Homo sapiens: one gene and its partner. The protein of the gene in region 1 interacts with the protein of each later gene in a pairwise test. Each region holds a gene or a part of one and is shown in the gene's direction. Other genes may lie near its edges.

Region 1 (3,827 bases):
AGAGGTCGCAGTGAGCCAAGATCACACCACTGCACTCCAGCCTGGCGATAGAGCAAGACTCGTCTCAAAAACAAAAAAACAAACAAAGAAGGTTGAATACAAATACAAAGCAAAAGTTTACATCATACAGACTTGGTAGATATGTTTTTAAAAGTAAAAATAAAAGACTGAAATTGGCCAGAATTTATTTCTAGGGACCCAGCTGTCAGTGCAGACTCCGTGTAATACCTAGACTTGGTGTGAGGCATGACTGAGTATGGTTCAGTTTCCTCCTCTAATCCCGTAAGATATTAGTTCTCAAGAAAAGAGCCCAGGGAATTTTAATTTTTACTTTGGATCCCGAGCAGGCATATTTCTCTTTGGCCTAGCAGAATTTCTTTCTAGATCTGGATCTGTTCTTTGTAATGATTTTTGATAAACAATATTCAGGATGTAAAATGCTTAGCTATCATTTGACTGACTCCATCATCAGGCTTTCTCCTACATGTTCATTTTATCAACCCTATAAGGTAGGAACTAGCCTCTCCATTTTACAGATGAGAAACCTGAGGTGGTTCCAAAGAATTGGGTAATTTGCCCAAGGTTCCTGTTTGCTTGGATTGGATTGCAGCCTGACTCTTCCCACCACTCTGTGTGCTGCCTCAGATACTATAGGATATGAGTTCTTCCTAGAGTTCTTCTGACTTTGAGAGTAGCTACAGCTGGTTTCCCTGAAGGCAGGAGTTCCTAACCTTTTGGGGTTGTGGATCCCTTTGAGAATCTGGTGAAAGCTATGAAGACCTTCCAGAAGGATGCACATACTATACATGCCATTTTGCATACAGTCTCTGGGTATATCGACCTGTCAATGTCCATTGACCACCCCCACCCCCCAGTTAAGAATTACCCACTTCTGGCTGGGCGTGGTGGCTCAAGCCTGTAATCCCAGCACTTTGGGAGGCCGAGGCTGGTGGATCACCTGAGGTTAGGAGTTCAAGACCAGCCTGGCCAACATGGTGAAACCCCTTCTCTACTAAAAATACGAAAATTAGCCGGACATGGTGGCATGTGCATGTAATCTCAGCTACTTGGGAGGCTGAGGCAGGAGAATGGCTTGAACCCGGGAAGTGGAGGTTGCAGTGAGCCAAGATCATGCTACTGCACTTCAGCCTGGGCGACAGAGTGAGACTCTGTCTCACCAAAAAAAAAAAAAAATTACCCACTTCTTGCCAAAATGCAGCTTCAAGAAATGTAGGAATGTTCTAGGACAGTGAGACTAAAACAGAAGCCTCTGTTAGCCATCAAAGGCACTGACATCTTACTGTCTGCTGTAAATGGCACTCCACTGGGCGGCATGCAGTATATTTGACTCACACATCAACTTTAGCCCTTAACCCCAGTGGGAAAACCACTGTAAAGATCTGGATACCAGGGGCCACATGTGTGCTGATGCCTGTGGTTTGGTGGGGCTACAACAGGAAATTCCTGCTTTGGAAAGACAGAAAGCAGATAGCCAAATTCTCTCTACCACATTTTGGAAACTATGTGTTTGAGTCTGATCAAGCATGATTTAGATTCAAATTCAGAAACCATGTATTAGCCTTAGTTATGTGCCAGGCAGTCCTGCACTGGATCCGTTCATGTGAATGGCTCTGTTGAGCCCTCACCAAGACAAATACATCTATAAATGCCTGTTGGGGGTTCAATATTTAAACAAAATGGCATATACTCTTCAGGCAAACAGGAACTCTTCAGAATTCTCTGCTGTCTATTTGCGTAGGGAATTGACAGTTCTCACTTAGGCAAAATGACTTGTGTGCCAAGATATAGACTTTGGTTTCTTGAGCGTAGCTCAGTGTTCCCCAACTTCCATATTCATCAAAATTATGCATACGGTTGAACACTCAAAGCTAGACATAGTGTGATGTAAAGGATTTTTTCAGGCTATCTTCTGGGTTGTTGAGGTGGGGCATAATGCATGTGAAATTGTTTCTTGGAATGAGAGCCTAACAAAGGGGAGGACTGTGTTATATTCCGACCACTGAGCTCTGTATTGCTTGACACTGCCTTTCAACCTCTGAGAAATAAAAGTTCACATACCTTAAGTCGATGGTCATGAGAGACCAGGTCAGGGATGGAGTGTGAATGTTGTGAGCTCATTACTGTTACTGCAAAAGAGCCAAAAGTAGTGTTTCAGTATGAACTATTTTTATACACACACAAATATCTTTTCTTCTTTAAACTAGAATCAGGTGCTCTGGTTTTCATTTTATAAATGGAAGGGAAACCCTAAGGAGAGTCTGGTTTTATGTTTTAGCTTTATTTTTTAAAAATATATGGTACCTCCTTGAGAATCTGATGAAAGCAGACATCCTGCTGCCTCTTCCAGATGTGCCTAAGCCTGTGTACACACTCACACACACACGTGCACACTCACAGAGACGCACGTTCACATTCAGTTACCGAGAACTCATGGACCTGTCTGACCTCTGAAGCCAGTCTGCCTGGGTTGAAATCAAGTTCCACCACCTACTGGCTCTGTGGCTTTGGCCATATTATATAAAGTGTACCTCAGTTTCTCAATCTGTAAAATAGTGCTGGTGATCCTCCCTAATAAGATGGATTGCAGGATTAGCAGAGATAATAAAGTACTTAGGAAGTTTTGGCACATAGTAAATTCAATCAGTGTTAGCTATTTTTTTATTATTTCATTGGTACTTTATGTTATCCAAGTACTCTTTATTTGCAAATTTGTAAATTTAATCACATTAAATATTAATTTTTAAATACTAAACATTCAATTTTCATCATTTTTTAGTAAAGTAGACCTTATTAAGACATTTAAACAGGTCCTACATTATAAACATAATTTTTGCTGTGAATGGAATAGAGCCACTGAAATGTACAGTGACCCTTTAGCCAGTAAGCTCATGCAAGTTTTAGCTCTAAGAAAAAAAAAACACTACTCTGAGACATTTACCAATATATTTGACCATGTAACTTTTTGTTTCCTGGGTCATCTTAATGAAAGAATGCTCCAACTTGAGAAATTCTGCTCTGTGCCAAAAGTTGGCTTTTTTTCTTTCCTTTTAAAAGGACTTATTAATTGTTCTTTATGTTTGCAATATGTTTATAGCTTAGGAATTATTTTATGGAGTATCAGAAAAGGTTATAGATTTACAAACAAACCTTAAGCTTGTGGAGCAAAAAATAAGGCATTTGTTATGTTCTGTACTTCTTGTGATTCTTGACTATATGAGTGCAAATGGCTTATTGAGTTATTGTTGAGAAATATAAAAAGCTAACTGATAACTTCTCCGTTAAAATTTTACAAAAACTTAAACACTTCTTTCAGGCTGCAGAAGATGTCAATGTTACTTTCGAAGATCAACAAAAGATAAACAAATTTGCACGGAATACAAGTAGAATCACAGAGCTGAAGGAAGAAATAGAAGTAAAAAAGGTATTGAAAATAATTATTAGAAGAATAAAATTTTTTTATACTATAGCTACTAAAACTGAACTCAGTTAACAAGTGAATATATATTTCTCTGGGCTGTTTGTTGCAGATGAATGACGCGATCCACTCTAGTTAAGCAGAAAGTCATTTTTTTTTTAAGGGATATGCGATAACTTACAGAGTTGTTGAGGAGCTTGAGTCTAGACCGAGGTTCCAGGAACAAGTCTCGGAGAACTTGGCTGGCGGTGGAACAGCTGTTGCCTCCACTGATCCCAGAGTCAGCTGTCTTCCCAATGAGGAAGCCACCCTTGCAGACTTAGGAACACCAAGCTGCTGCTGCCAGTGCCACCTACCCCAGTAAATCTGGGGCCTGTGTCCAGCCGTCCCC
Region 2 (3,768 bases), on another chromosome or scaffold:
TCCTTACTAGCATCTCTGGGGGAGAATTAGATTTCAGCCTTATTCACGTTATTGGCAAAATCCGGTTCTCTGTGGTTGAGGTCCCTGTTTCCTTGCTGCCTGTCGTCCAGGAGTCAGTCTCAGCTTCTAGAGGCCACCTGCAATCCTTGGCTCATGGTCCTTTCTGTTTTCAAAGCAGTGATATGACTAGTCTTTCTTACACTTTAGATCTTTCAAACTTCTCATTCTGCTGCCAGCCAGAAAAAGTTCTCTGCTCTTAAGGGCTCATATAACTAGATTAGGCCTACCTAGGCAGTCTGTATATTAAGGTCAGCTCTGACAAATGATGTAAATATCTCATCAGAGTCACAGATTCCAGAGATTAGAATGAGACAGCTGTTATGGGAGCCATAATTCTTGCCTACTATAGAAGTCAGTCACAAAAGAGCACATATACTGTGTCATTCTGTTTATGTAAAGTTGTAATACAGGCAAAACTATGCTGTAAGTCAGGTTAATGGTTACCTTTGCGGTGGGGGTGCTGGTGGTAACTGAAAATGTTCACAAGGAAGCTTTGGGGTGTTGGTGATAACCTGTCCTTGATCTGGATGCTGGTTCCATGAGTGTGTTAAGTTTGTGAAAATACATCAAGCTATATATTTATGATATGAATACTTTTCTATATGTATATAATATTAAATATAAACAAAAAAATCAGAAAACTGCATAAAGCAAAGTGTAAGTGAACGAATCTGTTGTCAGGGTTCAACCGGAGAAATAGAACCAGTAGGATATAGCTAACCTGCATAAACTTGTGTGCAAAGGTTCAGGTTAATATGTGTGTACCTCATGGTTTCATACTGTTACCTCCAATTCAAATTCAGGACAACAGAGTTTTCACTTTAGTTGTTCCTCTGTTTTTTTTTTTTTTTTTTTTTTTTTTTTTGAGACAGAGTCTTGTTCTGTCGCCCGGGCTGGAGCGCAGTGACGTGATCTTGGGTCACTGCAACTTCCGCCTCCTGGGTTCAAGTGATTCTCCTCCTTCAGCCTCCTGAGTAGCTGGGATTACAGGCACGTGCCACCACGCCCAGCTAATTTTTGTATTTTTAGTAGAGACGGGGTTTCGCCATGTTGGCTAGGCTGGCCTTGAACTCCTGACCTCAAGTGATCCACTCATCTCAGCCTGCCAAGTGCTGGGATTACAGGTGTGAGCCACCGCGCCTGGCCCCCCTGTTTCTTCTATATCAAGAATCCTGGTTTTCAGAAATACCAAGGGTGATAGAATTAAGCTAGACAACATTACTATTCACACGCAAAGCATTCTTAGAATAACACCACCCAACACTGTTACCACTGACATTTTTGCATATGTTCTTCCTGTCCTTACACATTCTTTATAAGGTTGTTCCCACATTGTTGGAGCACAGAGCCATTATATACTGTTTGCTCTCTCTCTTTCTCTCTCTCATCTTTCATTTATCCTAGTTCTTCGTGTAAATATTGAATGCACATCATAGTCTTTATGTTGATGTCCCCCCAGTCATCATCCAGTCATTTTGATTGTATGTTACTCATTCGTCTGATAAGTAGATTGCCTTAAGATTTATGGGAATGATATTCCCTGAGTTATCTCATGTTGCTGACAACTTGTCTGTGGCCTTTGTACTTGAAATTCAGTTTTGCTGGATATAATATCTTAAACTCACATTTTATTTCCTTGAGCATCTTATACAGTGCCCCATTTTCTTTTGTTGTAAAGCATCACTGTCAAAAAGTGTGAGGGCAAACTGATTTCTTTCTTCTATGAGTGATGTGTTCTTTTTGCCTGGATGCTCAAAGGACTTTTGGGTCAGTTTCCCCCAGGTATACAAAGTACCCTTTCATTTCATTTTGCGTGTCATTTCACCCAGTGTGTGTGTGTGTATGTGTGTGTGTGTGTGTGTGTGTGTGTGTAGTATGTGCATGTGTCACATTTCAGGAACATTTTGTTGAAATGAAGGATTTAGAAATTTTTTTGGTCCCCTGCTTTGGTTTTTTTTTCTTTGTGGATTCTTGTTATATTTATGTTCAGTCTTTGCTTATGTTGAATATTTTTGTCCTATCTGAATTTTAATACAGTTTTCTAATTATGGATTGGATTATTTGGTCAATAAGTATTTATTTGGCATTTACTTTGTGCCAAATACTTTCATGTTGTCTTGTTTAATCCTTACAACAATCCTTTGAGTAATTTTAAAATTGCATTTGTGAGATGAGGAAAGTGGTTTAGGAAATGCCAGTGGTAAGTCAGGTGATAGGGAGAGTTCAAAGCTGTAAAAGGTGTGGCTTCCCAATTCCAGGGTACATGCATCCCTGAATGTTGGCAGTAACACTAGATCTTCAGAATGACAGACACATTACCTTGTCTTAATCCCTAACATCTGTCAGAAGTAGTAGGAAGGGACAGGTAAAAGCTAGCTGTCTTTTTTACCTGGTCAAATATAGATGATAATAAATGTCTTTGAAAAATTTTAAATTAATATCATATCTCAAGCTCAGAATTTATTTAAATTGATACAAACAACACTATTTAGTTTCACGATGGAGGTAGTAGAAAGATAGGATTTTGTATCTAAACATACTGGTTTCTTATCCTGATTCTCCCATTTACCCACTAGCTATGCCAGCTAAGGAAACCTGAGCCTTCATTTCTTTAACTGTGAAGAAGACAACTTTGGCCTCAGCAGGGTTGAGGATTAAATGATACAATGTATGTAAATATATTCTTTAACCAAGGGGTCAGCAAACTTTCTGTAAAAGGTCAAATGGTAAATATTTTTGGTTTTGTAGATCACATGGTCTCTGTCTCAACCACTCAGTTTTGCCATTGTGGTATGAAAGCCTGAGTAGAGAATAGCTGGGCTCCAGTGAAACTTAACTTACAACAAAAGGCAGCAAGCTGGATTTGACCTGAGGGCTGTAGTTTGCCCACACTTTACTCTAACCTATAAAGCTCTGTGTAAATATTGAGTAATTGTCATGACTTTCTCTCTTCAGGCTAATGTAATGCTTGAATATGATATTGATGAAGCTCAGGCATTGTTGGAAAAGAATTTATCGACTGCCACAAAGAATCTTGATTCCCTGGAGGAAGACCTTGACTTTCTTCGAGATCAATTTACTACCACAGAAGTCAGTATCCTTTCTTAAAACAAAAAGCAAGGGAAAAAAGGAGAAAGATTTTTTTAAAAAAACATTCTTTCATGGGCAGAGGGAGAGCATTAGGAAAAATAGCTGATGCATGCTGGGCTTAATACCTAGGTGATGGGTTGATAGGTGCAGCAAACCACCATGGCACACGTTTACCTTTGTAACAAACCTGCACATCCTGCACATGTACCCTAGAACTAAAAAAAAATTAGAATACAAAAAACCTCCCACATTCTTTCTTACATTGCTTTAGTGGGAAGAATTTCCTTATTAGGCTAATATAAAGGTTATAGATTTTATAAGATAATAAATAAGATATTCGGAACTAGTACTTAAATAAGTTTGTAGATAGATTAGTGATTTTGAAATGTGATGTGGAAACAGCAAATTCACATAGGTGAGTAAGTATTTTTCTTCCAAATATTTTCCCAAGACAACTTTATAACTGGTTAAATAGTTTAATTTCACAAGCATTTAAGGGTCTCCTATGTTCCTGCAACTGTGCTAAGACATATGGGGCATGAAAATCAATTTTAGAAAAGAGTGGCAGTGCCTTTCTCTGGTAGAACTGTACATGTAAAACAGCTGAATGATAATTCA

Evidence for each region.
Region 2: the proteins of PFDN4 (region 1) and VBP1 interact in binary tests that used the Homo sapiens proteins (3 or more experiments, as listed by UniProt).

Annotation. Positions count from the first base shown.
Region 1 is NC_000020.11:54,211,017-54,214,843, forward strand, and holds part of PFDN4 (prefoldin subunit 4), read left to right. Parts: intron 1-3,334; coding exon 3,335-3,442; intron 3,443-3,827. UniProt on the Homo sapiens protein: Binds specifically to cytosolic chaperonin (c-CPN) and transfers target proteins to it. Binds to nascent polypeptide chain and promotes folding in an environment in which there are many competing pathways for nonnative proteins.
Region 2 is NC_000023.11:155,233,214-155,236,981, forward strand, and holds part of VBP1 (prefoldin subunit 3), read left to right. Parts: intron 1-3,015; coding exon 3,016-3,154; intron 3,155-3,768. UniProt on the Homo sapiens protein: Binds specifically to cytosolic chaperonin (c-CPN) and transfers target proteins to it. Binds to nascent polypeptide chain and promotes folding in an environment in which there are many competing pathways for nonnative proteins.